Linked DNA regions of Homo sapiens. The protein of the gene in region 4 interacts with the protein of the main gene of each other region in a biochemical or structural test. Each region holds a gene or a part of one and is shown on either strand. Other genes may lie near its edges. The genes, in order: GSTP1, CASP10, SFTPA1 and PRDX6.

Region 1 (7,292 bases), on a different chromosome or scaffold from region 4:
GCAGGCTAAACCGAAGTTAGCCTCTGCTACCCTCTGCTGGGTGAGGCACTGGGGAGAACAGTGGGACTGAATGGGGCGGGCTTTCTCCCTCCCACACTTCCCCTGGAAACACCCAGCACCAGCACATTAGAACATGGGGAGCCACCTTCCCCAGCGCTGCTTCCCAAGGTTCGGAAGGGGAAACTCTGACCTCAAGCTCTGTTTGAAGAGCGATAGCAAAGGGGAGAGGTTGGCTGTGGTTTGGTGGTGCTTATCTCCTTCCTTTGCTTTGAAACCACAGGCTGGCATACTACCCGAGAGAATGACCAGTGCCACCAAGGGAAGGGCACAAGCTCACTGGTTCCAGGGGAGACATCTCAGGGGACAGGAACATCCCCTGACGCTGAATGAGTGCAGCACACAGACGGAGAATACACACAAGAGAAATCATGAGGACATGAGAGAAGGCACTGGCAATAGGAAGTTACAAAAAGCAACAAAAAGAAAGAGTAGATATAAAAACAATAATCGAAGAAAGCCAACAACAGATGGGATGAATCATACGAGGTATGCGACTCATGGATGAAGAGGTGAGTGATGAGATCAGCTGGGGAACTCTCTCCCAGGAAAGACAAACCAGAAGAAACACAAATGACATCGAAGTGGCCAGGCGCAGTGGCTCACGCCTGTAATCCCAGCACTTTGGGAGCCCGAGGCAGGTGGATCACTTGAGGTCAGGAGTTTGAGACCAGCCTGGCCAACATGATGAAACCCTGTCTCTACTAAAAATACAAAAATTAGCCAGGTGTGGTGGCAGGCACCTGTGATCCCAGCTACTCAGGAGGCTGAGGCAGGAGAATCACTTGAACCAGGAAGCAGAGATTGCAGTGAGCTGAGATGGTGCCAGTGCACTCCAGCCTGGGCAGTAGAGTGACAGCCTGTCTAAAAAAAAAAAAAGGCAGTAAAGTGATAGGAGGATAGATTAGAAGGGCCATTTTCCAGATAGTGCAAGGAAGAAAGAAGAAGAAGAAGAGGAGGAGGAGGAGGAAGAGGAAGAAGACGGAGAAGAGGGCATCTCAGAAGAAACAATGGAGATACATTTCTCAAAACTGAAGAAAGATGACCAACCTCAGACCGAAGGGCCAAGAGGCCAAACCAGAGAGACAGCTTGGCAAGCCAGGAAGAGCACCAAAGCTAGACAATTAGAGTGAAATTAAAGAAAACCCAAGGTGACAAAAATTTAAAAAGCTTCCTTGTGACCTCAGTCCATTGGTGAAAATTTAAAAAAAAAAAAAAAAAAAAAAGGACAGCCTGGGCAACATGGTGAAACCCCATCTCTACAAAAAATACAAAAATTAGCTGGGTGTGGTGGCACATGCCTGTAGTCCCAGCTATTCGAGAGGCTAAGTAAGGCAGGAGGATCACTTGGGGCCAAGAGTTCCAGACCAGCTGCGGCAACATACATGTTGTGGGAAGTCAGGCACCCCGAACGGAGGGACTGGCTGAAGCCATGGCAGAAGAACATAAATTGTGAAGATTTCATGGACATTTATCACTTCCCCAATCAATACTCTTGTGATTTCCTATGCCTGTCTTTAATCTCTTAATCCTGTCATCTTCGTAAACTGAGGATGTATGTCGCCTTAGGACCCTGTGATGACTGCGTTAACTGCACAAATTGTTTGTAGAGGACAATTGTTGTGTGTTTGAGCAATGTGAAATCTGGGCATCTTAAGAACAGGATAACAGCAATTTTCAGGGAACAAGGGAGATAACCTTAAAGTCTGGCTGCCTGTGGGCTGGGCAGGACAGAGCCATACTTCTCTTATTACCGCAAACAGGTAAGAGAAATATCGCTGAATTCTTTCCCCAGTAAGGAATATTAATAATTAACAGCCCTGAGAAAAGAATGCATTCCCAGGGCCGGGCCACTGAAATGGCCTCCCTGAGAGTGCCTGCCTTTATTCAGAAGTAGAAAGGGATGAAACACGCCCTAGTCTCCTGCAGCACCCCCAGACTTGATAGGATTAGGAAATTCCAGCCTGGCAAATTCTAGTCAGACCGGTTCTCTGCTCTTGAACCCTGACAGTGCGTGCACAGTGGGACCTGGAAGTTCATTAGTGATTCTAGTTTCGCCGTGACCTTCTGCCCTGTGATCTTTTGTCGCCCTTGAAGTATGTGATCTCTGTGACCCACACCCTGTTCGTGCACTCCCTCCTCTTTGAAAATTGCTAATAAAAACTCGCTGGTTTTACGGCTCAGGGGGCATCACGGAACCTGCGGACATGTGATGTCTCCCCTGGACACCCGGCTTTAAAATGTCTCTCTTTTGTACTCTTTCCCTTTATTTCTCAGGCCAGCCGACACTTAGGGAAAATAGGAAAGGACCCACGTGAAATATTGGGGGCTGAATTTCCCCCGATAATAAGTCTCTTAAAAAAGACTTTTAAATGAAATTTCTTTGTTTTTTAACTTTTATTTCTGTTTTGGGGGTACATGTGAAGGTTTGTTACATAAGTAAACTCGTGTCTTCGGTGTTTGTTGTACAGAATATTTCATCACCCAGGTATTATGCCGAGTACCCAATAGTTCTCTTTTCTGCTCCTCTCCTTCCTCCCATCCTGCACCCTGGAGTCAACCACAGTGTCTGTTGTTTCCTTGTTTGTGTTATAAGTTCTCATCATTTAGCTCCCACTTACAAGTGAGAACATCCAGTATTTGGATTTCTGTTCCTGCATTAGTTTGCTAAGGATAATAGCCTCTAGCTCCATCCATGTTCCCACAAAAGACATGATCTAGTTCTTTTTAATGGCTGCATTAAATGAAGTTTTAAAGATACAACATAAACACCAACCTCTTCCCCACCACAAAAATCCCTTGCTGAATTTGATTACACTTAAATTAACGAGTTTTGTTTCATGAAAGACTCCTTGGACAAACTTGACAGTTGATGGAATAGGAGAAGCTGTCTGTCATGTCTAAAGCCAACAAGAGATCAATATCTAGAATAAATGGAGATCTGCAAATCAACAGAAAGTAGGCAGCAAAGCCAAAGAAAATAGCCTAAGGCACAGCCACTAAAAGGAACGTGATCATGTCCTTTGCAGGGACATGGGTGGAGCTGGAAGCCGTTAGCCTCAGCAAACTCACACAGGAACAGAAAACCAGCGAGACCGCATGGTCTCACTTATAAGTGGGAGCTGAACAATGAGAACACATGGTCACATGGCGGCGATCAACACACACTGGTGCCTGTTGAGCGGGGTGCTGGGGAGGGAGAGTACCAGGAAGAATAGCTAAGGGATACTGGGCTTAATACCTGGGTGATGGGATGATCTGTACAGCAAACCATCATGGCGCACACACCTATGTAACAAACCTGCACATCCTCTACATGTACCCCAGAACTTCAAATAAAAGTTGGACGGCCAGGCGTGGTGGCTCACGCCTGTAATCCCAGCACTTTGGGAAGCCGAGGCGTGCAGATCACCTAAGGTCAGGAGTTCGAGACCAGCCCGGCCAACATGGTGAAACCCCGTCTCTACTAAAAATACAAAAATCAGCCAGATGTGGCACGCACCTATAATTCCACCTACTCGGGAGGCTGAAGCAGAATTGCTTGAACCCGAGAGGCGGAGGTTGCAGTGAGCCGCCGAGATCGCGCCACTGCACTCCAGCCTGGGCCACAGCGTGAGACTACGTCATAAAATAAAATAAAATAACACAAAATAAAATAAAATAAAATAAAATAAAATAAAATAAAATAAAATAAAATAAAATAAAAAAATAAAATAAAATAAAATAAAATAAAGCAATTTCCTTTCCTCTAAGCGGCCTCCACCCCTCTCCCCTGCCCTGTGAAGCGGGTGTGCAAGCTCCGGGATCGCAGCGGTCTTAGGGAATTTCCCCCCGCGATGTCCCGGCGCGCCAGTTCGCTGCGCACACTTCGCTGCGGTCCTCTTCCTGCTGTCTGTTTACTCCCTAGGCCCCGCTGGGGACCTGGGAAAGAGGGAAAGGCTTCCCCGGCCAGCTGCGCGGCGACTCCGGGGACTCCAGGGCGCCCCTCTGCGGCCGACGCCCGGGGTGCAGCGGCCGCCGGGGCTGGGGCCGGCGGGAGTCCGCGGGACCCTCCAGAAGAGCGGCCGGCGCCGTGACTCAGCACTGGGGCGGAGCGGGGCGGGACCACCCTTATAAGGCTCGGAGGCCGCGAGGCCTTCGCTGGAGTTTCGCCGCCGCAGTCTTCGCCACCAGTGAGTACGCGCGGCCCGCGTCCCCGGGGATGGGGCTCAGAGCTCCCAGCATGGGGCCAACCCGCAGCATCAGGCCCGGGCTCCCGGCAGGGCTCCTCGCCCACCTCGAGACCCGGGACGGGGGCCTAGGGGACCCAGGACGTCCCCAGTGCCGTTAGCGGCTTTCAGGGGGCCCGGAGCGCCTCGGGGAGGGATGGGACCCCGGGGGCGGGGAGGGGGGGCAGACTGCGCTCACCGCGCCTTGGCATCCTCCCCCGGGCTCCAGCAAACTTTTCTTTGTTCGCTGCAGTGCCGCCCTACACCGTGGTCTATTTCCCAGTTCGAGGTAGGAGCATGTGTCTGGCAGGGAAGGGAGGCAGGGGCTGGGGCTGCAGCCCACAGCCCCTCGCCCACCCGGAGAGATCCGAACCCCCTTATCCCTCCGTCGTGTGGCTTTTACCCCGGGCCTCCTTCCTGTTCCCCGCCTCTCCCGCCATGCCTGCTCCCCGCCCCAGTGTTGTGTGAAATCTTCGGAGGAACCTGTTTCCCTGTTCCCTCCCTGCACTCCTGACCCCTCCCCGGGTTGCTGCGAGGCGGAGTCGGCCCGGTCCCCACATCTCGTACTTCTCCCTCCCCGCAGGCCGCTGCGCGGCCCTGCGCATGCTGCTGGCAGATCAGGGCCAGAGCTGGAAGGAGGAGGTGGTGACCGTGGAGACGTGGCAGGAGGGCTCACTCAAAGCCTCCTGCGTAAGTGACCATGCCCGGGCAAGGGGAGGGGGTGCTGGGCCTTAGGGGGCTGTGACTAGGATCGGGGGACGCCCAAGCTCAGTGCCCCTCCCTGAGCCATGCCTCCCCCAACAGCTATACGGGCAGCTCCCCAAGTTCCAGGACGGAGACCTCACCCTGTACCAGTCCAATACCATCCTGCGTCACCTGGGCCGCACCCTTGGTGAGTCTTGAACCTCCAAGTCCAGGGCAGGCATGGGCAAGCCTCTGCCCCCGGAGCCCTTTTGTTTAAATCAGCTGCCCCGCAGCCCTCTGGAGTGGAGGAAACTGAGACCCACTGAGGTTACGTAGTTTGCCCAAGGTCAAGCCTGGGTGCCTGCAATCCTTGCCCTGTGCCAGGCTGCCTCCCAGGTGTCAGGTGAGCTCTGAGCACCTGCTGTGTGGCAGTCTCTCATCCTTCCACGCACATCCTCTTCCCCTCCTCCCAGGCTGGGGCTCACAGACAGCCCCCTGGTTGGCCCATCCCCAGTGACTGTGTGTTGATCAGGCGCCCAGTCACGCGGCCTGCTCCCCTCCACCCAACCCCAGGGCTCTATGGGAAGGACCAGCAGGAGGCAGCCCTGGTGGACATGGTGAATGACGGCGTGGAGGACCTCCGCTGCAAATACATCTCCCTCATCTACACCAACTATGTGAGCATCTGCACCAGGGTTGGGCACTGGGGGCTGAACAAAGAAAGGGGCTTCTTGTGCCCTCACCCCCCTTACCCCTCAGGTGGCTTGGGCTGACCCCTTCTTGGGTCAGGGTGCAGGGGCTGGGTCAGCTCTGGGCCAGGGGCCCAGGGGCCTGGGACAAGACACAACCTGCACCCTTATTGCCTGGGACATCAACCAGCCAAGTAACGGGTCATGGGGGCGAGTGCAAGGACAGAGACCTCCAGCAACTGGTGGTTTCTGATCTCCTGGGGTGGCGAGGGCTTCCTGGAGTAGCCAGAGGTGGAGGAGGATTTGTCGCCAGTTTCTGGATGGAGGTGCTGGCACTTTTAGCTGAGGAAAATATGCAGACACAGAGCACATTTGGGGACCTGGGACCAGTTCAGCAGAGGCAGCGTGTGTGCGCGTGCGTGTGCATGTGTGTGCGTGTGTGTGTGTACGCTTGCATTTGTGTCGGGTGGGTAAGGAGATAGAGATGGGCGGGCAGTAGGCCCAGGTCCCGAAGGCCTTGAACCCACTGGTTTGGAGTCTCCTAAGGGCAATGGGGGCCATTGAGAAGTCTGAACAGGGCTGTGTCTGAATGTGAGGTCTAGAAGGATCCTCCAGAGAAGCCAGCTCTAAAGCTTTTGCAATCATCTGGTGAGAGAACCCAGCAAGGATGGACAGGCAGAATGGAATAGAGATGAGTTGGCAGCTGAAGTGGACAGGATTTGGTACTAGCCTGGTTGTGGGGAGCAAGCAGAGGAGAATCTGGGACTCTGGTGTCTGGCCTGGGGCAGACGGGGGTGTCTCAGGGGCTGGGAGGGATGAGAGTAGGATGATACATGGTGGTGTCTGGCAGGAGGCGGGCAAGGATGACTATGTGAAGGCACTGCCCGGGCAACTGAAGCCTTTTGAGACCCTGCTGTCCCAGAACCAGGGAGGCAAGACCTTCATTGTGGGAGACCAGGTGAGCATCTGGCCCCATGCTGTTCCTTCCTCGCCACCCTCTGCTTCCAGATGGACACAGGTGTGAGCCATTTGTTTAGCAAAGCAGAGCAGACCTAGGGGATGGGCTTAGGCCCTCTGCCCCCAATTCCTCCAGCCTGCTCCCGCTGGCTGAGTCCCTGGCCCCCCTGCCCTGCAGATCTCCTTCGCTGACTACAACCTGCTGGACTTGCTGCTGATCCATGAGGTCCTAGCCCCTGGCTGCCTGGATGCGTTCCCCCTGCTCTCAGCATATGTGGGGCGCCTCAGTGCCCGGCCCAAGCTCAAGGCCTTCCTGGCCTCCCCTGAGTACGTGAACCTCCCCATCAATGGCAACGGGAAACAGTGAGGGTTGGGGGGACTCTGAGCGGGAGGCAGAGTTTGCCTTCCTTTCTCCAGGACCAATAAAATTTCTAAGAGAGCTACTATGAGCACTGTGTTTCCTGGGACGGGGCTTAGGGGTTCTCAGCCTCGAGGTCGGTGGGAGGGCAGAGCAGAGGACTAGAAAACAGCTCCTCCAGCACAGTCAGTGGCTTCCTGGAGCCCTCAGCCTGGCTGTGTTTACTGAACCTCACAAACTAGAAGAGGAAGAAAAAAAAAGAGAGAGAGAAACAAAGAGAAATAACCATGGTCACTGTCCTGGAGCACCACACAGTGTATATAGAAGGAGAAAAGTCTC
Region 2 (7,104 bases), on a different chromosome or scaffold from region 4:
TTTACACACTAGTGGGATCCCTCCCCCTACTTATTACACTTATTTATGCCCAAAATATCCTAGGCTCACTGAGCATGATAATAATAACATTTAATATCAAGAACTACCAATCTCCTGATCCAACAATCTCATGTGATTGGCATGTATAATGGCCTTCATAGTAAAAATACCCCTATACTGACTTCACCTATGACTTCCCAAAGCCCATGTATAAGCACCTAAGGCTGGCTCAATAGTACTTGCAGCAGTGCTCCTAAAATTGGGCGGCTACACAAAATGCGACTTACCCTCATCCTCAGCCCTCTGACAGAACATATAGCCTATCCTTTCCTGATATTATCCTTATGAGGCATATTATGACAAGCTCCATCTGTCTACGACAAACTGATCTAAAGTCACTTATTGCACATTCCTCCGTAAGCCACATGGTACTTGTTACTGTGGCTATCCTCATTCAAACCCCCTGAAGTTTTACCAGTGCAATTATCCTCATAATTCCCCATGGACTTACTTCGTCCCTACTATTCTGCCTAGCAAATTCAAACTACAAGTGAATCCACAGCTGAATCATATTACTCTCTCGAGGACGTCAAACATTACTTCCACTAGTAACCTTTTGATGACTTACAGCAAATCTCACCAACCTTGCCCTACCCCCCACTATTAATCTAGTAGGAGAACTCCTTGTAACAACGGCTTCATTCTCCTGATCAAACACTACCATCATGCTTATAGGACTTAATATATTAATCACAGCCCTTTATTCCCTCTATATACTTGTCACAACACAACAAGGAACACTAACATACTATATTAACAGCATTAAACCTTCCTTTACACGAGAAAACATACTAATACTCATACACCTTTCACCAATTCTCTTACTATCTCTAAATCCTAAAATTATTATAGGACTTATACCTTGTAAATATAGTTTAATCAAAATGTTAGATTGTGGTCTAATAATAGAAGTCCGCAACTTCTTATTTACCGATAAAGTTTGCAAGAACTGCTAACTCATGCCTCCATGCCTAACAACATAGTTTTCTCAACTTTTAGAGGATGAGAGTTATCCATTGGTCTTAGGAACCAAAAATATTGGTGCAACTCCAAATAAAAGTAATAATCATGTATTTTTCCATTACTATAATAACCTTAATCTCCTTAACCTTACCAATTATTATTACCTTTATCAACCCTCACAAAAAGAACTCATATCCATACTATGTAAAAATAGCTGTCGCATGCACTTTCACCATTAGCCTCATTCCCACAACATTTATGTGTACAGACCAAGAAACCATCATCTCAAACTGATATTGAATAACAATCCAAACCCTAAAACTCTCATTAAGCTTCAAACTAGACTAATTCTCCATAATGTTTATTCTAGTAGCACTATTTATCACTTGATCTATTATAGAATTCTCAATATGATATATGAAGGCAGATCTGAACATTAATCAGTTTTTCAAATACCTACTTATTTTCCTCACCACAATATTAATTCTAGTTACTGCCAACAACATTTTCCAACTCTTTATCAGATGAGAGGGTGTAGGAATTATATCTTTTCTACTAATTGGCTGATGACATGGCCAAGCAGATGCTAACACAGCAGCCCTCCAAGCAATTCTATACAATCGCATTGGTGACATTGGCTTTATTTTAGCTATAGCATGATTCCTCTCATCATCCAATACATGAGAGCCTCAACAAATACTTATCCTTAACCCTACCCCCAACCTTCTTCCATTAATTGGTTTTCTCTTAGCAGCAGCAGGAAAATCAGCCCAACTTGGCCTCCACCCCTGACTTCCTTCCGCCTTGGAAGGCCCAACCCCAGTCTCAGCCCTACTTCACTCTAGCACTATAGTTGTGGTGGGAGTTTTCCTACTTACCCGCTTCCACCCCTCAACATCACTAATCATCACGGAAATGCAAATCAAAACCACAGTGACAGCTGGGCGCCGTGGCTCACGCCTGTAATACCAGCACTTTGGGAGGCTGAGGTGGGTGGATCACTTGAGATCAGGAGTTCCAGACCAGCCTGGCCAACGTGGTAAAACCCTGTCTCTACTAAAAATACAAAAATTAGCCAGGCGTGGTGGCACATGCCTGTGATCCCAGCTACTCGGGAGACTGAGGCAGAAGAATTGCTTGAACCTAGGAGGCAGAGGCTGCAGTGAGCTGAGATTGCGCCACTGCACTCCAGCCTGACAGAGCAAGATGTTGTCTAAAAAAAAATAAAAATAAAAATAAAAAACCCACAGTGAGATGCTACTTCACTCAAGTTAGAATGGCTATTATCGAGGAAACAAAAGAAAACACATATTGGCAAAGATCTGGAGAAAAGGGAACACTTACACACTGTTGGTGGTATTGAAAATTAGTACAGCCATTATGGAAAATAGTATGCCAGTTCCTCATAAAATGAAAAATAAAAATACTATATGATCCAGCAATCCCCATACTAAGTATATAAACAAAGAAAATGCAATCAATATGTCAGAGAGATATCTGCACTCCCAGTTTACTGCAGCATTATTTACAATAGCCAAGATATGGAATCAACCTAAGGGTCCAAAAATGGATATATGGATAAAGAAAATGTGATATTTATACGTGACAGAATACCATTCAGCCATAAAAAAAGAAAATCCTGACATGTCTGACAACATGAATGAGCCCAGAGTGAAATAAGCAAGACACAGAAAAAATCTGCTTGTTCTCACTCATGTGGAATCTTTGTTTAAAAAGTTGATGTCATAGAAGCAGTGATTAGAACAGCAATTACAAAGATGAGAGAGAGAAGGAGGGAAGGGAAGATGAGAGGTTAGTCAATGGGTACAAAGTTACAATTAGATAGGAGAAATAACCTCTGGTGTTCTGCTGCACAGTGGGGTGACTATGGTTAACAGTAAGGCATTCTGAGCTGGGCACTGTGGTTTGAGCATATAATCCTAGCTACTTACAAGGCTAAGGCAGGAAGATTGCTTGAGCCTAGGAGTTCAAGGCCAGCCTCGGCAACATGGTGAGATCCCATATTTAAATCAATCGATCAATCAGTAAGGTGTTGTATATTACAAAATAGCTACAAGAGAGGCTTTTAGAGGTTCTCACCACAAAGAAATGATAAATGCATGAGGTGATGGATACACTAACTACCCTGATTTGATCATTATACAACACATATATGTATTGAAACATCAAATTATAACCCTGAAATATGTAGTTATGAAGTATCAATTAAAAATAACAGAAATTTCTGGAGTACCAAAAAAAACCACACATTGCTTAATCATGCATGTATACTGTCTCCTTTTAATATTGTTGAATTTTTAAAATAATAATAATTTAAATATTCACTTATATTTTTATTATCTGTCCTTCCTTCACTGGACTTTTAGCTCCCTGGAGAGCAGATTTTGTCTCTCTTGTACACAGTTGCACCCCCTGTCCCCAGTTCGGTACCCAGTACAGTAAGCACATAGTACGCTCTCAATAAATATTGCCTTGTTCCTGAAGCCATAGACATTAGCCTCTGATGTCTGTGATGAGAATGGAGGGGCTGGTAAAGAAGAGAGAAAAGCAAAGTTGACTCAAGGTTCCAATCCTGAATTCCCAGAAGAGCACTATGGCCATTCCTTCAAATGGAAATTCAGGAGTAGGAGCTCCTGGAGAGAGCTGGGAAGATGAGCTCAGAAACATGCATGCTGAATGTGAGGTCCAAGGGCTAAACAGAGGTAGGATATCTAGCGGGATGTTAATGAGACAGGCTCAAGCAAGTCATTCATTGGCCCAGCAAATGTTTAACAAGCTCACAATATATCAGGTCAGGGGCTGAGGATATAAAGTTGAATGAAACAGGGTCTCTGCCCCCAGGAATTCAGAGATGAGTGGGCCAGAGATGGCAACTTTGGAGACGTTTTCATGGAGGAGCCCATGGCCTCTAGGTATGGCTAAAGGTGCCAAGAGGACAGCATGTGGCAGAGACAGAAGGGAAGCTGTCAGAGCAGTGGCAAATAGAAGTCCAAAGATAGCACATAGGTGCTCAGGACGTAAGAGTGAGTGATAAATAAACGAACAAATAAAAGGCCCCCATGCTTTTGTTCATGCTATTCCCTCTGCCCAGCACATCTTTCACCTGATTCTTTACCTAACATCTATTTGTCATTTCTAGAAGCCTCCTCTGATCCTTCAAATCTGGGCAAGGTACTCATTCTGCATGTTCCCATAACACCTATACTTCACAATGTGCACTTACCAGCTGGGGATGCCCTTCCCCGTCTATTTGTTTGTCTATCCCTCTAGCTTGTAAGCAACCTGAGGGCAAGGACTCTGTCTTTTTTTAACTCTGTATCTTCCTTTCCAGGTCCAGGCTGGTACTCAATACAAGGTTGCTGGATGGATGGATGGATGGACAGATGGATGGATGGATAGATGAATGGGTGGATAGATGGATGGATAGATGAATGGGTGGATAGATGGATAAATAGATAAACAGGAGGGTAGGCAGATGGTTGAACAGGTACATGGATAGAACAACGTAGAACTCTCACCCTTACCAAAGGTGTTGAATGAGAGTAAAATAAAAAATAAATAAAACTAATTAATTACAAATGGAAGAAAAAAAAGAGCTCTCACCTTGGGACCAATTTCTTCAGATGATTACACAGAGACTGAATATACCAGCTGCCTTCCTCCACATGCCGAAAGGATACATAGCCTGGGACAGTGGCCAGACCAAGTAGGAAGTCAGCCTCGGCAGGAATACTGTCCTGCAGGGAAGTGGGTGCCTGCTCAGGGTTCAGAGCATCTGCTTCGATGGATACGGAAGGCTGTATCTCTTCACCTTGGCAGGCCTGGATGAAAAAGAGTTTAGGTTTTTCAGCCAGTCTAGGGCACTGCAGGGCTGTGAAGTGAGACATGATCTCCCGAATGGGAATGAGGGCCTCATCCGAAGAGTAGACAGCTCCAAATCTCCCATGGGTCAGAATACAGAACACGAAGCAGTCCCCGTCGGCATGGGCTGGATTGCACTTCTGCTTCTGCAGGACCATCTCCATTTCCACTTTCGTCACATTATTGTGTATATGCACTGTGAACCCAAGCCACTGGAACACATGACTCAGGATCTCTGTTTAAAAACAAAAAAAAAAAAAAAAGAGAGAGAGAGAGAGAAAGGGGAAATAATAAAATGATGCAAAACAAAATGAAGAACTGAAACAAGGCCGGGCACAGTGGCTCACACCTATAATCTCAGCACTTTGGAAGGCCGAAGCAGGCGGATCACTTGAGGTCAGGAGTTTGAGAACAGTCTGGCCAGATGGCAAAACCCCATCTCTACTGAAAATACAAAAAATAGCCAGGTGTGGTGGCTCACGCCTGTAATCCCTGCTACTCGGGAGGCTGAGGCACGAGAATGGCTTGAGCCTGGGAGGCAGAGGTTGCAGTGAGCTGGGACTGCACCACTGCACTCCAGCCTGGGCAACAGAGCAAGACTCTGTCTCAAAGAAAAAAAAAACTGAAACAATGCTAATAGTTACAAAATTTGCACAGCAAATAGCCTAAAGCTTTGGATTATTTTTATTTTCATAACCATAAAATCTTACAATGAATCTCCTATCACGTAATACCCAGTGTTGTCACAACAGTCCTGAGAATCGGCAGTGGCCAGTGTTTCATCCTGTTTCACAGTTGAAGAAGCCAAGGTCTCTTGACTCTCCCATGATCACACACCTAGTTAGTGGTGGAGCTGGAGCTCACGCCCAAGTTGTCTCGTGCCAATCCAGCAGGCTCTCCCCCAGTACATGCTCTCCTCTATTCAGAATTGTGAATAGTCAAAGATTCTTGCCACTCTTTAGCAGACTGATGACTCCCCAGGGATATATAAGAGGCTCAGAAACATGATATCATCCTTACACGTATATGGAAGATAAAAGTCACAGAAAGAAAATGTGAAAATAAAAAATAATTTTAAGATCCCCAATTTGCATTTGATAAACTGTTCCAGACTTTCTTACCAGCATCTTTATGGGTTCCTTGTCTGTCCTTCAGGGAGGTAAAGCTGTGGTTGTTGACAATGACACAGAGGCCTCTGTGGTTCCGATTCATCCTGTACACAGCTGCCCTCTTGAAGAATAGATAGAGCCACTTAGTAGGAATCCTTATCTTAGGGCCTTAAATGTTTCTAACCAACCACTCCAATGGATCCACTGTGAGGAAGAGCAGGATGTATCTCCCCATGCCAGTTGTTTAAACCATGTTTTTGTTGTTGTTGTTATTTTGTTGTTGCTGTTGTTGTTGTTTTGAGATGGAGTCTCACTCTTGTTGCCCAGGCTGGAGTGAGTGACGCGATCTCGGCTCACTGCAACCTCTGCCTCCCGGATTCAAGGGATCCACCTGCCTCAGGTGCCCACCAACACCCCCAGATAATTTTTTTTTTTTTTTGAGACAGCATCTCGCTCTGTCACCCAGGCTGGAGTGCAATGGCGTGATCTCAGCTCACTGCAACCTCCACCTCCTGGGTTCAAGCGAGTCTTCTGCCTCAGCCTCCCGAGTAGCTGGGACTACAGGCGCCCGCCACCATGCCCAGGTAATTTTTGTATTTTTAGTAGAGACGGGGTTTCACTATGTTGGCCAGGATGGTCTTGATCTCTTGACCTTGTGATCCGCCCACCTCGTCCTCCCAAAGTGCTGGGATTACAGGCATGAGCCACCGCGCCCAGCCGATAATTTTTGTATTTTTGGTTGAGGTAGAGTTTCACCATGTTGGCCAGGCTGGTCTTGAACTCCTGACCTCAAGTGATTCGCCCACCTCAGCCTCCCAAAGTGCTAGGATTACAGGCATGAGCCACCATGCCTGTCCAAAACCATGTTTTTATACTCTAGTCTAAACCCCTTGGGGTATTTATGCCACATTATTTCTGAAGTCACATATTGAAAAACTGGGGATTCTGACTACTCTGCAACTCACTTTTACTGCACAATTGTGATCTGAATAAAATTTCAAAGATTCTTTTTTAAGTCCTAGAGCCCAGGACAAAGGATAAATCTCATTTGCACTAAAGATTAGACAGTTCCTTTCTTTCAGGATGCCAC
Region 3 (7,654 bases), on a different chromosome or scaffold from region 4:
GGTCCAGGAACCATTTAGTTCCCTCAGGTATTTGAGCTAGCAGGGTATACGGATTGGGAATCATTGAATGTATTGGAACCACAGCCTCATTAACAAGGAGGTGGTTCTGAACTAGCCTCCATTTCTAGTTGGGTTTTTGTACCCCCAATATTGGGGTATTACAAGGGCTATTGCAGGGTTTGAGTGGGCCCTCCATCTTCAAGTTATCAATGATGGCTTCTAGTCCTTTCCTAACCTCTAGTTTCAGGGGATATTGTTTCTGGTTAGGAAAGGAGGTGGGATCCTTAAGATGGACCCAGACTGGTATGGTAGTTGTGGCTCTGACAATCTTCCCTAGAGTTGCCCAAACTTCTGGGTTAATATTGGTCTCTACTAGGATGAGACAAAGAGTTTCCCTAGGGGCCATCAGAATGATGGTCCCCACATGGGCCGGAATATCCCTACCCAACAGAGGAGTTGGGCTTTCAGGCATAATTAGAAAAGCTTTGGTGAACAACCCCAGGTACAGCTAAGGGGTTGGAAAAAATATCGGGTTAAAGACCTTCCTGAGATGTCCCTCACAGTCATGCTAAGAGAGGAGAGGGGGCCTGGATTCAAGAGGAGAACTGAGAGACCAGTCCCAGTGTCCAAAAGGAGGTCCACTTTCCTCTCTTCGATTTCCATGATTACCCAGGGCACCTTGATGATAATGGTGGTCTGGACTACAGGAGCCAGGAGAGGAGCCCTGGGACCTGTCAGTCCTGCTGCTGGACCATTTGGAAGACTGGCTCTGGACCTGGTGACCAGCATGCCCAGGAACAGTCCACCCTCCAGTGGTCCCCACTGCAGATTGGACAGGGTTGAGGTAGCTTCCTCATGCTGTCTGAGAAATTCTTGAAATGCCCTGATTTGCCACATCTGTAGCAATTGACAGGTGCACCCTGGGAATTCTGGGGTTTGTGGGCTTGTCTGCTGGCCATTAAAGTCTCTGTCTCTTTCCTGTATTTCCTCTCTCTCTTGTGCCTACCTATCTCTATTATAAAAAACCAAGGTGGGTACTTTCAGAAGGTTCTCTAAAGTACTCTCTTGTCCCAGAGCCTGTTTTGTAGCTTCCTCCTGATATCAGGGGCTGCCTGAGTAGTAAATTTATGCTTTAGGATTGGTTGTCCCTCAGCTGAATCAGGGGATAGACAGGTGTGCTTTACTAAGGCCTCCCTTGGCCTTTCCAGGAAGGCAGTGGGATTTTCATCAAATCCCTGGTCAATCATGGATGATTTAGTATAATTGAGAGGCTTGGTCCTGGTCTTACATAAGCCCTCCATTATGCACACCTGAAAGTGCCTCCTCTTCCAGGCTTCCATCTTGTCATTGGAATCCTATTTAGGGTAATCCATTGATACTGCTTCTCTCCCAGTTGGATAATGTTTGCCCCCTTCCCTGACACTATATGTGATACTAAGCTCATCCCCAAATCTCTCTGCTGCTTGCAGAGCAGCCTGCTTCTCAGTGTCTGTCAAGGTCTGGTTCAAAAGCAACATAATGTCTCTCCAGGAGAGATCAAATATTTGGGTGAAATTCTGGAAAGCCTCTATATATCTGTCGGGGTCATCTGAAAAGTTCCCAAGATCCCCCTTAATTCACTTTAAGTCCTGTAGGGAGGAGGGGAACTGGACCTTACTGGGCCCAAATTCACCAGGCATTGGTTGAAGGGGCAAGAGTGAGGTTGGGGCTTGTCTAGGGTGAGGATTTTTAGGAGGGGGCAAGTGAGAGGCTGAAGCTGAATAGGGAGGTCGAGGTAGACCCAGAGGGGAAGAGCTGGAGGGGGCTGGCTTCTCTGCTTGGGGTGCCTCTGGGATTCATATCTTTAGTTTCCTAGGCTTGCCCCTTGCAGTCCTCCCTGAGATGGCAAGCAGGAGGGCTGTATCAATCCTACACTGTCAGCAAAGGTCTGGATTGCCTTGCAAGGTATAGAAAACCTGCACATATGGGACCTCAGACCATTTGTCTTCATGTATACAGAAAAGGCCTGATCACCGGATACTATCGAAATGAAAGGTTCATTCCTGAGGTCCACCCGGTCCTTCATAATTTGGCCAAACCTTTGTGCAGAGGGCTATGAGGCATTTTTCTTCCAGATTAAGAGGATCAAAGCAGTCCCATTGGTTCTGGATACACTCCAGAGGGGTATAAGCTGGGAGTGGTGAAGAGAGATGGTTGCCTATTCTGAAAGACAGAGAATAGAGGCATGCCTCATTCCCTTCCTTCTTTAGTGAAAACTCAGGGTGTGATGGAGAGAGAAAGCAAGACTGTGGACTCTGAGGTGGCTTGGCATGGGCGCCCAAGGACTGGCAGTGTGAAGAGGATATCCCTGCAGAGGGAAGAAGCCCAACGTGGAGGGTGAGGCCCCGAGGAGAACGAGAAAGATACTGAAGGAGAGCGGACTGGACCGGCGGGGGCAGTGGAGCCTAAGCAGGGGGAGGAGGCTGTGGACACAGCTGAGTGGCCTGGTGTGGGCACTCGGAACTCAGCAGGAACTACAGCAATTCTTAGAGCTAAGAGTGACAAATTTGTGTTGGGAGAACCATCTTCTTAACGACATTCTTTAGATTCACTGGTGCCATGTGCTGGCAAACTGTAACTGTTTCAACATCAAACACACGTAGTGCCCCCTGCAGCCCGCAGGTGGGTGCTCGGCACCCCCTGGTGGTCAGTGGTAGGCCTCACGAACGAGTCCACATTGCTACAAATCAATCAATGGGCAACAGAGACAGTGTGATGAGGAATGGGATCTTTACAATAGCCCCAAAGTGCGTCCTCATAACATAGTCACTGATTAAAACCAGAAAAAGAATGTATTTATGGTAGTGAAGCGTGACACCCACCACCTTAATTCAATGATCAACAAGAACATCATCAATCTTGGGGCAAACTAAAGTCACATGCCGCCCGGTAGAATGGGAGAAGAGCGCAGCAGGATGTCTATCGCATTTCTGCTGAAGTTACAGAACCTGAATCTAATCATGAGCCAATACATTAAAAAAAAAAAAAAAAAAGTGAGGGGCATTCTACACAGTAACTCTCCTGTGATCTTCACACTGTGTTCAGGTCATGAAGGTGAAGGGAAGACAGAGGGCCTTTGTGGGTTTCAGGACCCTGGAGAAGCGTGACAACCGAATACGGCACATGGCTCAGAAATGGATCCTTTGCTATAAAGGACACTATTGGGGCATTGGGTACATTTTGCATAGGGCCTGAAGGCTATTTGGAGTTATTATATCCATGTTAATTTCTTGATTATGGTTATAATGCGAAAATGCCTTTGCATGAAAAACACATTAAAGTATTGGGGTGTTGGGGTTTCATGCTGACAACCTACTTTCATAGGTTCAGGGAAACATATTTGTACCGTGCCTGCAATTCTTCTGTAAATTTGATGTTTCAAGATAATAAAAACAAAAAGGAAACTGAGCCTCAAAATGTTACATAACCTGACTGAGTCCACATGGGTAATAAGTGACAGCTCTGGGTGAAAACTCAGGTGTGCCTTTCCCCTAAAGTCACGCCCTGCCCTGCCAACCACAAGGCCCTGCACATCTGAGTTGGCCTCTGTTCCTGCTCATCACCTGCAAAACAGCCCTGCCTCCCCACAGCCAAGTTGCTGGAGCTGCGCCCCACCTGCCCCCACCCTGCACTGGCCTGACTCCCCCATTCCACACCTGGCCCAGCACCCACCACATGGTGTGGCAGACAGCACTGGGGCAGCTGAAAGACTCCATGCTACAAATTGGCACTGCCCAGCTTCCTGCTTCTGGGAGTGGGGTCCATTGGCTGAGCTTCCGCTCCCTGGAAGAGCTCCAGACTCCTCAATGGTTTGGGATTTTTCAAACCAATTCCAAATAAGCCAGGGGAGATTTTCCTGTCTTGGTTCCCATCATTACCACCTCCACAGTTGGAGATTCCCTCCTAATCCAGATGCTCAAACCAGGACCTCAACAACTAGGGCTTCATATATCACTGGGACACTTAGCATAATCACCATTGCAGGTTGCCAGACATCACCCAAAGTGATGTTCTACCAAAGACAGAAACTGCAGCTCTCCCGTGACCTTCCAGGTGCTGCCCTGACTCCTCCAGCTGAACCTGCTAGGGCAGAGGGAAGTGGAACGTGCAGCATATTTGCCTGCCACTCTGCCCATGTGCCCACCAACTCAGCTGCAGGCTCCAGGGACACAGGCTGGTGGGGGGGCCTGGGGCTCATGGCTGAGCCAGGTCGCAGGACAGACAAGTTGGCCTGGATCAACCTGACCAATCTCAGCTGGAGCAGTGAGTTCTTCATTGTCTGAATCTAAACCAGGAACCCAGTGGGGCTTCCTTAGTGCCTGTGTAAGGGCTCTCGGCTTTCACTGCTAAGGAGCTTGCTAGGGGCAGGGTGGGTGACCTCAGCCAAGGGGGGGATTTCTCTTCTTACAGACCTGGAGTTCCTCTTTCGCAGGTTCTGTGCTCCCCTCAAGGGTCCTTTGAGATCCTCCAGCCTGAGTGCTCTTGGGGAAACATGCTGTGTAAACACTATGCCCATTTCCTGCCTGGAGCACAGGTTTTGTGGTAGGGCTCTCAGGGGTGAGGAGGAAGCCTGGCAGCCCCCACATCTATAAATGCTGCGTCTACCTTACCCTCTGACTTGGAGGCAGAGACCCAAGCAGCTGGAGGCTCTGTGTGTGGGTGAGTTTAGCCCCATCCCCTAGGTGTTCTCCAGCTTGAGGATCGCAGGCAGAGAGGACCAGCCCAGCAGCCACAGGCCTGACCAAAGCCCAGGCTGGGAAGGAGGGCAACTCCCCATTTTCCACTGGGAGGTGTTTCACAGCACAGTCAACATAGGTGACCTGCAAAGATCCTCATGTTTGTTATTTTCTTTGGCCAGATCCATCCCTACAGGGTTCAGCAGGGCCTACAGGAGGGGCAGTGAGAGAACAGACCCCAAAAAGAAAGGGGACTCCATGACTGACCACCTTGAGGGGGGCCAGGCTGCGGGCCCCGTTCATCTTTTTTCATTCTCAGGTCGCTGATTTCTTGGAGCCTGAAAAGAAAGTAACACAGCAGGGATGAGGACAGATGGTGTGAGTCAGTGAGTGAGTGACCTGACTAATAGCCTGGGAGGGACAGGGCAGGTTTTCTGCAGAGCACGGAAGATTCAGCTGAAGTCAGAGAGGTGAAGCCAGTTTCCCAGGGTAACATAGTGAGGCACTGAAAGAAAGGAGACTGCACTGGAGCCCAGGTCCCCGGGCTCCCCAGAGCTCCTTACTCTTCCTCCTCCTCAGCAGCCTGGAGACCCCACAACCTCCAGCCGGAGGCCTGAAGCATGAGGCCATGCCAGGTGCCAGGTGATGCTGGGAATTTTCCCGGGAGCTTCGGGTCTTCCCAGCACTCTGGTCTCGCCCGCCCTGCCTCTCGGGCTCTGCCCAGCTTCCTGAGTCCTGACAGAGCACAGTGGGGGAGATGTTGGCAGAGGTGGCAGATGGGCTCACGGCCATCCCTCCTGCAGGAGCAGCGACTGGACCCAGAGCCATGTGGCTGTGCCCTCTGGCCCTCAACCTCATCTTGATGGCAGCCTCTGGTGCTGTGTGCGAAGTGAAGGACGTTTGTGTTGGAAGCCCTGGTATCCCCGGCACTCCTGGATCCCACGGCCTGCCAGGCAGGGACGGGAGAGATGGTCTCAAAGGAGACCCTGGCCCTCCAGGTACTGTGCTGCAGACCCCACCCTCAGCTGAGGGACACAGACCCCTTTTCAGGAGGCCCATCTGTCCAGGCCCCTAGGCTGTGGGCCATAGTGAGCTGGGGGCTATAGTAAGCTGGGTGGGACTTCAGTCTGCAGGGCTGGTGGGTTCCTGGGGCCCTTATGATGGCGCATCCTGGAGAGTCTGTCCTCATAGTGCCCACGGAGTGATAGAGTGATAGCTGAGCCAGCCCTGGTGATAATGGGCATCGAGTCTCACTAGCTCCAACCAGTTGTGGGTGACAGATCCTACACATCCATGTCTCTTTTCTCTGCAGGCCCCATGGGTCCACCTGGAGAAATGCCATGTCCTCCTGGAAATGATGGGCTGCCTGGAGCCCCTGGTATCCCTGGAGAGTGTGGAGAGAAGGGGGAGCCTGGCGAGAGGGGCCCTCCAGGTGAGCAGGGTGGGGCAGGTGGGCAGTGGAAACATGGGCACAGCGACCCTGAAGTCAGTTACACGGGGATGATGGGGATCAGACAAACCCTACAGGTTCCCCAAGGGCATTTGGCTCAACCTAAGTAAGAGAGGATAAGCTTGAGGGAGAAAGCTGAGGTGTCTGGGGAGTGTGGTCACAATTCAGGGAAAGGCAGGTGTGGGAAGTCCTCCGTGCCTCATGACCACCGATGGGGACACACTGAGTCAGGTGTGGGATGAGGGACAGCACTGGGAGGCAGGGGAGGCATGTCCTGGGATGGAGGCCCTGGGGGCTGTCTGAAGGGTGAATGCGGACGAGGCATCCAGACAGACGGTGTGATCAGGAGCCCCACAGACAGAGGGGAACTTTGAAGCTCAGAGCGGTAAGCAAGTCCATCAGGGCAGTGCAGAGAGCATCATGCTTGCCCTTGGTGGAGGGTGCGGGAGAGGGACTTGCCCCACAGAGGCGGGCAGACAGAACCCCTCGAGGGACAGAGCAGGAAAGAGGACAAGGGGTGGGGGTCTCAGCAGGGGCAAGGCTTCACTAAAGAATAGGGGACCACGGGGTGTGGAGACACACTGGAATCTTGTGGACCCTCTGAGCCTAGGGTCTGGGTGGCGCCTAACAGCAATGAAAGGGCAGAGTTCCAGGATTGCAGATGGCAAAACACCTGCGTGGCAGCAAGTGGGAGTCTTCACTGGCCTGCCCCTCCTTCTGTGTGGGGCACTCTCCACAGGGCTTCCAGCTCATCTAGATGAGGAGCTCCAAGCCACACTCCACGACTTTAGACATCAAATCCTGCAGACAAGGGGAGGTAAGGGGACCCCCTGGGCCTCACGGGGTAGGAGTTTCCCACAAATTCCCCTCATTCTCAGCACCAGCTTCTAGAACATAGAGATTACAAATAGGCATGCACATGCAGGTCTTGGGGAAAGGAATGACGCTTGCTTTTCTGATGTCTTTGAATGGCCCAGAGGAGACAGAAGCAGACACAATTCACTCCCCATTTCATAGGAAAGCAAGTTCTCCACCTGCCTTGCTTTCCACTGAATTCCAGGAAATTGCACCATTTCTGGCAATAAGTAATTGTTACTTAGGTGAATGAATAAATGGAGGAGAGTCTAAAAGTGAATTTAGAAAACTGCAATTGGAAGAGGAAGAGAAGACACAGAGAGAGGCAGAGATGGAGAGACTGGGGAGAATCTGGTAGCAGAGACCCCAGGTGAGGGAGGTGGCTTAGAGACAAAGTGGTCAGTGGCCTGACCCGGACTCCTCTGCTCTCAGCCCTCAGTCTGCAGGGCTCCATAATGACAGTAGGAGAGAAGGTCTTCTCCAGCAATGGGCAGTCCATCACTTTTGATGCCATTCAGGAGGCATGTGCCAGAGCAGGCGGCCGCATTGCTGTCCCAAGGAATCCAGAGGAAAATGAGGCCATTGCAAGCTTCGTGAAGAAGTACAACACATATGCCTATGTAGGCCTGACTGA
Region 4 (7,777 bases):
TTTCAGACCAGCCTGGGCAACACAGGTTAGGAAGACCCCGTCTCTACCAAAAATAAAACAATTGCCCAGGTATGGTGGCATGTGCCTGTAGTCCCAGCTACTCAGGAGGCTGAAGTGAGAGGACTGCTTGAGCCCAGGAGCTTGAGGCTGCAGTGAGCTATGATCACACCACTGCACTCCAGCCTGGGTGACAGAGCAAGGCCCTGTCTTAAAAAAAAAAAATGAAAAAAAAAAGGATAAAAAATGGTACACCTATATAGGGCATTTACCATGAATATAGCTTGCAGGACTGGAAGTTGCCATGGGTGAGACAGTGAGTGAGTGGTGAATGAATGTACTGTAGACTTTATAAACACTGTACACTTAGGCTACACTAAATTCATGTGTAAAAATTTCTTTCTTCAATAACAAATTAACCTTACCTTACTATAACTTTTTTACTTTATAAACTTTAAAATTGTTTTAATGTTTTGACTCTTCTGTAATAACACTTAGCTTAAAACACAAACACATTGTATAGCTATACAAAATACTGTATTTTCTTTTTTATATTCTTATTCTATAAGCTTTTTTATAATTCTAAAAGGTTATTGTCTTTTGAAACTTTTTAAACTTAAAAACAAAGACATAAATGCACACATTAGCCTAGGGCTTCACAGGGTCAGGATCCTCAAGACATCACTATGCGAAAGGAATTTTTCAGCTCCATTATCATCTTATGAGACCACCGTAGTATATGTGGTCCAATGTTGTATCACATGACTGTATAACTAGAGACATCTTGCTCTTTTACTCCCAGCTGTGGACAAACAAGAAACTTTGCTGTTGTGGCTGCAGGAAGGCGACCCAATGTTTCTCTAATACTTTGTACAACGTAGTCCTCATGCCCACTATGTGTAACAGGTCACAAATATTCATTAATAAAATATAGTCAAACCTTTAGGAGTTCACAATCTAGTGAGAGAGACAGGCATCATGGTGCACTGTTGTTTTTCCAAATGCCCATTGCTAATCTGTTCATTTTATTCTTCTGTCAAAGCAGTAAAGACAGAAGAGAAGATGTGAGTCATCCCAGAGTCACAGCCCTCTGGAAATGCCTGAAATCCATTCTTTCCTGTCCCTCAGATTACTGTAAGGACTTCAAGGTTCTCTCCGACCCTTATAGCTGTATGAAAACACTTTTTCTGATAGGAGAGCCTCCACCCTCTCTCTAAGGAAAGTAAATCCTTTCTTAGTCAAGCTCTCCCTTTTCCACACTCCGGTCTTTCCCTGGAATGTCTCCTCTGTCCTTCCTCCCCTCCTCCTTTCCCATTATACATCTCACTAACCCTCAGGAAAATAGCTTTAAAATTTTCCCTCTGGAATGGGGCCCAGTCCACAGAGCACCTACCTTTGGTATAAGTCAGATGTTAAACTCAATTACCTACGAAGGCCAGGCAGAACAGCGTTCTTCTGACTTTGTTTGCATATTAAGTTCATGGAACATTCTCTACTTTCACAAAGAAACATGATCATTTTTTTCTTGAAATATACAGCCCTTAGTTAAGCTTTCATTTGCACAGTTTTGACAGATAAGAATGCAAGAACTATTTCTTTTTCCTCCCAATTCTACTCTAATGTTAGTAACTGGCAGAGGACCTTCTGAGTAACAGAGAACATTGCCCTCTAAAAGGCTACTCAGCAGCCACTGTTTGCCAGATGGAACATGGGCCTGGTGTTGCTGTGTTGCTAGATCTTCTGACCTTTCAGGAGACAAAAATCCAGATATTTTTATGAAAAATCATGTTTTCAAAATGCTGATGTGGACGAAAGAAAGAGAGATCAGACTGTTACTGTTGTCTATGCAGAAAGAAGAAGACATAAGAAACTCCATTTTGTTCTGAACTAAGAAAAATTCTTCTGCCTTTAGATGATGTTAATCTGTAACCCTAGCCCCAACCCTGTGCTGGCAGAAACATGTGTTGTGTTGACTCAAGGTTTAATGGATTTAGGGCTACGCAGGGTGTGCTTTGTTAAAAATGTGTTTGCAGGCAGTATGCTTGGTAAAAGTCACCGCCATTTTCCAGTCTCAAGTACCCAGGGACACAATGCACTGCGGAAGGCCGCAGGGACCTCTGCCCAAGAAAGCCTGGGTATTGTCCAAGGTTTCTCCCCACTGAGACAGCCTGAGATATGGCCTCGTGGGAAGGTAAAGACCTGACCGTCTCCCAGCCTGACACCAGTAAAGGGTCTGTGCTGAGGAGGATTAGTGAAAGAGGAAGGCCTCTTTGCAGTTGAGATAAGAGGACGGCATCTGTCTCCTGCTCATCCCTGGGAATGGAATGTCTCGGTGTAAAACCCGACGTACATTCTATTTACTAAGATGGAAAAAACCGCCTTATGGCTGGAGGTGAGACATGCTGGAGGCAATACTGCTCTTTACTGCACTGAGATGTTTGTGTAAAGTCAAACATAAATCTGGCCTATGTGCACATCGAGGCATAGAACCTTTCCTTAAACTTATTTACGACACAGAGACCTTTGCTCACATGTTTTCCTGCTGACCCTCTCCCCACCATTATCCTATAGTCCTGCCACATCCCCCTCACCGAGATAGTAGAGATAGTGATCAGTAAATACTGAGGGAACTCAGAGACCAGTGCCGGGTCCTCCGTATGCTAAGCGCCGTCCCCCGGGCCCACTGTTCTTTCTCTATACTTCATCTCTGTGTCTTATTTCTTTCCTCAGTCTCTCATCCCACCTGACGAGAAACACCCACAGGCGTGGAGGGGCTGGCCCCCTTCAGTGGACAGCTAATTCAAGACAATTTAAAATGCTCCAAAGTCTAAAGCAAACAAGTTCACAGAGTGCAGAAGCATTGCCAGTGTACAGCTTCTGGCACTGTAAATTCTAATGAGTATTTTATTATATTTGCTTAATTTACAACAGACAATAATATAATTATGCCTTTGACAGACATCAATAATCTGTTTCTGTATTCATTCTCCATATTTATAGAGTATTGTGTTTTCTAGCTGATTTCCACAACATATTGTTAACAGTGCCTTAGGCCAAACTACTCTTCTTTCCCAACTATTCTCTTTCTTCCCTACAAAGGGAGTTAAAACAAGGAGCTGTTAAAACTTGGAGCCAAATTAGAGATTAAATTACATTAGCTTTAAACGGTTTTGTGAAGTGGCTAGAAATTTTTACCAGTAATCTTACTGCAAGTCCTGGGTCACTGAAGAACTCGGTAAATATGATTAGCATGCACGCACCAACACATCACTGTGATGAAAACGCAAATCACAGTATGTGAGTCACTACTCTCAACATTGCCATGCCCCTGCCTTAAACCTGCCAGCCCCATCCAGAGGATTTTTCTCATCTCTGAACTCCAATCATTTACACCTTCCCCCATCAGAATTTACCCTACATTTTATTATAATTGCATATAAATATGCCTTCCCTGTAACAGCAGGGACTGTGTTTCTCCACTGTATGGCCTGGCACAGTGTCCAGCACACAGCAGGCAAAGCAAGAGTTACTGCATGAGCCAGTGTCATCATCCAAACGATAGCTACCATTTCCAGAGCACCTACCGTGAGCTGACTAGTTTACCTACATTATCCTGGTGGCTTTCCCAGACCAGACCACCCAAACCAAAGCAGCCCCCCAGTCACCCTCTAGGCACATAACCCTATTTTAGTTCTCTGAATACGACTGATTGCTGTCTAACATATTTTGGTTTGTGTGCTTATTGTCTGTCACCGGTTTCCCTTCACAAGAAGGAAAGCTCCAAGAGGACAGGCATCTTATCTACCTTGTACTTGGCTCATAGCAAATAAATGAATCTAAGCCGCCCACCTCCCTGGGTGACAGAGTTGACCTGCACACAGTAGGTCTCAAAGAGTATGTTTTAAATTTTATATTTAGATTTCAAGATAATTGTGTTGAATATTTTATGGTTCATAACAAACAGAAAGGGGAGGGCAGAATAAAAATAAATAAAAGTTTAGTTACATTACCCTAGCACTGACATTGGTACGGGAATTTTTGCTGCAATAAGAAAGCCACTTCCTCTGACATAAGGTCACCCATACTTCTGGGTCTTGCCACATCCTCTTAGACAGTTCATCGTAGCTGGGCTGGCTGGGGCGGTCAGGACTCCAGACGCTCACACTAAAAGAGGGGTGGTAGTCGAGCAGTCACTCCACTCCTCTGTAGGGAGCTGGCCGCGAGTGGGTGCGCAGCAGGGTGCGCGCGGACCCGTGCAGCGCCCAGGGCGGCTGTGCGAAGCCGCCGCAGCCTGCGCGCCCAGGCGATTCTCCACCTTGGGGCTCGCCTTCCTGCCGCGTTCCTCTTCCTTCCATCCCTAAAGCGCGTACGCCCTGCAGAGTCAAACCTGGCGCATCCTCAAGCTTCCAGGGGGCAACGTGACCGAGCCCCGCATCACGTGTGCAGAGACGGCCTATAGTGTCTGAAGGATGCCACCTAGTCGCAGGCCCGGCGGCGCCACCAACAGCGACCGCGGTAGTCCAGCTCGCGCCGCGTCCCGGCCCCAGCCCGGCCCGGCCCAGCCCCGCCCCGCGCCCAGCCCCGCCCCGCCCCGCGCCCAGCCCAGCCCCCGCGGCCCGGCCCCCAGCGGCCGGCCTCCCGCGGCCCCGCCCCCGCCGCCCCAGTCCCCGCCCCTCGCGCCTTCGTTTATTCCTCCGCGCGCTGGGACAGGCTGCTTCTTCGCCAGAACCAACCGGTTGCTTGCTGTCCCAGCGGCGCCCCCTCATCACCGTCGCCATGCCCGGAGGTCTGCTTCTCGGGGACGTGGCTCCCAACTTTGAGGCCAATACCACCGTCGGCCGCATCCGTTTCCACGACTTTCTGGGAGACTCGTAAGTGGCCACCGCGTAGCCCTGTCCTGGCCTCGGTTGCGCCGGACTCGGAGGTGCCTTCCCTGTTTCTTCTCCCTGCCGTCCTCCCGGCCGCTCAGCCCCCTGCGCCGCCCTCGCCTTCCCCCGCACTGGTTCCGGCGCGCGCCAGGCCGTGTGGCCTCTGCTCAGCGTCGGCTGCGCTGCTGGGAGCTGGCACCCGTTCGGCCTGCCCTGCGCGGGCCACTCGATCCCTCCTGGCCTCCCCGCCTCCGGCGTGGCTGGGCAAGGCCACGCCAAGGTGGGGGGTGGGGAGGATAAAATTGTGTTCTGCGGGTTCTGGAAACTCACCGCCCGCGGGAGGGTTTGTTGTCCATTTAACTCGTCTTAGTAAACTGTGCAGGTAGCGTGGTCAGGCCGAGGGCGCAGGGGCGGGGCGGCATTGACGATCACTTCCCCGGACTAGTGCCCAGGGTCGCACCGCCCTCCCACCCTCCGTTCTGGAATTTGCTCCCTGGGGAGGATGGGTGTCTAAAGCCAAAGTCGGAGGACACAGCTGCTGGCTATAGGTTACAGGAAGGCCAACGTATCATCTGAGGGTGCAGTGGTATTTGCAGGCTTCTGGGCACAAAATGTGAAATTTAAAACCACTAGCTGCCAAGTAGGTGGCCGAAAGACTTTTTGTCCAGAGCCGCCTCCAATGGCCAAGATATGATTTGATAACAGCTTTAGGAAGAGCCAAGAACACTCTGCGTAGGTGTGCCTTCAGAGATTCCAGAACTTGCAACACTTGGAGGGAAGGACTTTCTGACGCTGTTCCGCTGGAGTGGCCTATTCTTGCTAGTGATGGCCGTTCCAGGCTCCAGGACACGTGTACTCCCCAACTTTGAGACTCTCTTGTTTTCCAGTGGCTTGCCCCTCACTGTCCCCTCCGCTTTCTACCTTGCTTCTAGCACATGAGCTTGCTGATGATAGCCAAATTGATGACCTGTGATCTGACTTGGCAGTTTTACCATTATGGATAGGAGTAGTAAATCGGTGTTGCCCTTTTTTTTTTTTAACAGCTCCTGAATCAGCAAACTGGAAGTTGCTTAGTTTTCATCAGAAGCATTCCAGGCATGTCTAGTTATATTATGGTTCTGGAGTACTAGTGGTCCCACTACACTGTGGGGCTCCAAGGCTTGACAACAGTTCTTCCCCAGATTATATCCTTTTTATATACAGTATCCAGGGAGACAGGCTTATGAAATTAATCAGTGATTGGACAGGGCTGTGCAGAGAACCAGGGACAGATTCTTACACATCATATGCCTATCCAACCCTTTATAACCTCTTAAGTCCCTTTTCCAGCCACTGAATAGGGAAAAGTTAAGCTTTGTGAAAGATAGGACTAGGCCAGAAAAAGGTTGAGAAATGGAATATTCAAACCTTGAATGCAGAAAAATACTTTAGAAATACAGCTTATGGCCATTCTTATACTTAGGATCTAGGTAGTAATATTTCTCCAGCAATCCTTGGGATTTTTAGAGTTGTGTTCCTTCCCATTTCTACCTGCAGCCCTCATCCCCCATCCCCATGAAACATAAACTATTTCCAGAACTCTTAGCTTGTATAGATTAAATATTAGCATAAAACGTATTTACTGTGCCAACAGTTATAAATGCTGTCACTTTTTAAGCTAACCATACTTTTTTGGGGTTTTGTTAATGTTTATTGGCCTCTAGATCCATCTAGATTTGATCAAAAGTGGTACTTTATCAGGGAGCCATAGTTAGGAACACGGTAGAAATATCTGCATTTATTAACTAATATACAAGTCTGCCTAGGATCAGGTATAGTATTCCCTACCTTACCGGGAAGAGAAGTTTGAGCCTTTTATATGTTTATAACACATGGATTTTTGCCTGATTTTTCCAATTTTCTATTCTGTATATGATCCCAAATCAGACTGTCAATTTTTGATCCAGGTATTTTTGAGAAGAAAAAATTAAAATGTATTTCTCTACCTTACCCCTGATCATTGTAAACAACTAAAGAGGTTGGGTGCTACATTGGGTGAGTTTACCTTATCGCTGTTTCTTTAAGTGGTAGAAGCAGCTTCTTCATAGTACATCTTCACTAAGCAAAATATGTGTTTTCCAGGGGTCTTCTGGGGCTTAGTAAGTGGGAACCATTCTCTTGAAGGAGGAAACCTTTTGTCTTTTGAAAATGGGTAAGAAAATGGGAGCATGTCACTGAATTACTCTTAAGTGCAGCAGTAGGAAGACTTGGAGGGGAAGGAAGGCCAAGGTAAGACATTCTTGGAGTTTATCCTATTTGTAGCCATGAGGTAAACTGGAGTTTCACTTCTGAGGGAGGGAAGGACGTGAACTGGCTTAAAACCAGTTCCTTTTGCATGATTCAGCAAAACAGTCTTTATGGACTCACAGTGGAAAAAGAACTCCTAACTTTTCTAATTTATCCTCCTTTTAACGATAGAGGAGGAAACGCCCTGTTCCATTTCTTCTCAACTTCTGGAGACCTTCTGTTAAGTCTCATCTAACCATTAAATAGATCGTTTTCCATAGAATCTAAGGCCTAGATTTTACTCATAGTGATATTATCTACTTCAAAAGATATACTCTATGTTCTTCCTTTTGCCCTTCATAGTAAAGTGAACATAGTGCACACCTCCACAATCTTAAAAAAAAATACTAACTTTCCTCCCAGTCTTGCCATAGGGCCCTCCATCCTTTTTGTAAGAAGATCTTTTTCCTTCTTGAAACCTTGGGAGTTGAGTGGCAGCCGTAAGTAGGAAGGAGGTGCCCTTGTCTTTGCTTGTTCTCTGTGCTCAGGGAAACTTCAGAAAGGTCAACTTGGCATCTAGGCTAGATTTAGTTATCTACTAGTTTAGGATCCTGCCTAAATCATCTGGTTTAGGATGGTTTAAGTTG

What was found.
Region 1: the proteins of PRDX6 (region 4) and GSTP1 form a complex in vitro, tested with the Homo sapiens proteins (one study listed by BioGRID).
Region 2: the proteins of PRDX6 (region 4) and CASP10 form a complex in vitro, tested with the Homo sapiens proteins (one study listed by BioGRID).
Region 3: the proteins of PRDX6 (region 4) and SFTPA1 form a complex in vitro, tested with the Homo sapiens proteins (one study listed by BioGRID).

The regions. Positions count from the first base shown.
Region 1 is NC_000011.10:67,579,616-67,586,907, forward strand, and holds GSTP1 (glutathione S-transferase P), read left to right. Parts: upstream 1-4,196; 5' UTR 4,197-4,228; coding exon 4,229-4,229; intron 4,230-4,518; coding exon 4,519-4,554; intron 4,555-4,848; coding exon 4,849-4,955; intron 4,956-5,069; coding exon 5,070-5,157; intron 5,158-5,522; coding exon 5,523-5,626; intron 5,627-6,488; coding exon 6,489-6,596; intron 6,597-6,773; coding exon 6,774-6,962; 3' UTR 6,963-7,038; downstream 7,039-7,292. UniProt on the Homo sapiens protein: Conjugation of reduced glutathione to a wide number of exogenous and endogenous hydrophobic electrophiles. Involved in the formation of glutathione conjugates of both prostaglandin A2 (PGA2) and prostaglandin J2 (PGJ2).
Region 2 is NC_000002.12:201,207,106-201,214,209, reverse strand, and holds part of CASP10 (caspase-10 isoform 1 preproprotein), read right to left. Parts: intron 6,136-7,104; coding exon 6,027-6,135; intron 5,921-6,026; exon of another isoform or gene 5,743-5,920; intron 5,141-5,742; coding exon 4,648-5,140; intron 1-4,647. UniProt on the Homo sapiens protein: Involved in the activation cascade of caspases responsible for apoptosis execution. Recruited to both Fas- and TNFR-1 receptors in a FADD dependent manner. May participate in the granzyme B apoptotic pathways.
Region 3 is NC_000010.11:79,606,285-79,613,938, forward strand, and holds the start of SFTPA1 (pulmonary surfactant-associated protein A1 isoform 1 precursor), read left to right. Parts: upstream 1-4,654; 5' UTR 4,655-4,698; exon of another isoform or gene 4,699-4,854; intron 4,855-5,000; exon of another isoform or gene 5,001-5,034; 5' UTR 5,035-5,105; intron 5,106-5,294; exon of another isoform or gene 5,295-5,335; coding exon of another isoform or gene 5,336-5,357; intron 5,358-5,518; coding exon of another isoform or gene 5,519-5,541; coding exon 5,542-5,713; intron 5,714-6,027; coding exon 6,028-6,147; intron 6,148-6,904; coding exon 6,905-6,982; intron 6,983-7,452; coding exon 7,453-7,654. UniProt on the Homo sapiens protein: In presence of calcium ions, it binds to surfactant phospholipids and contributes to lower the surface tension at the air-liquid interface in the alveoli of the mammalian lung and is essential for normal respiration.
Region 4 is NC_000001.11:173,472,625-173,480,401, forward strand, and holds the start of PRDX6 (peroxiredoxin-6), read left to right. Parts: upstream 1-4,710; 5' UTR 4,711-4,773; coding exon 4,774-4,868; intron 4,869-7,777. UniProt on the Homo sapiens protein: Thiol-specific peroxidase that catalyzes the reduction of hydrogen peroxide and organic hydroperoxides to water and alcohols, respectively. Can reduce H(2)O(2) and short chain organic, fatty acid, and phospholipid hydroperoxides.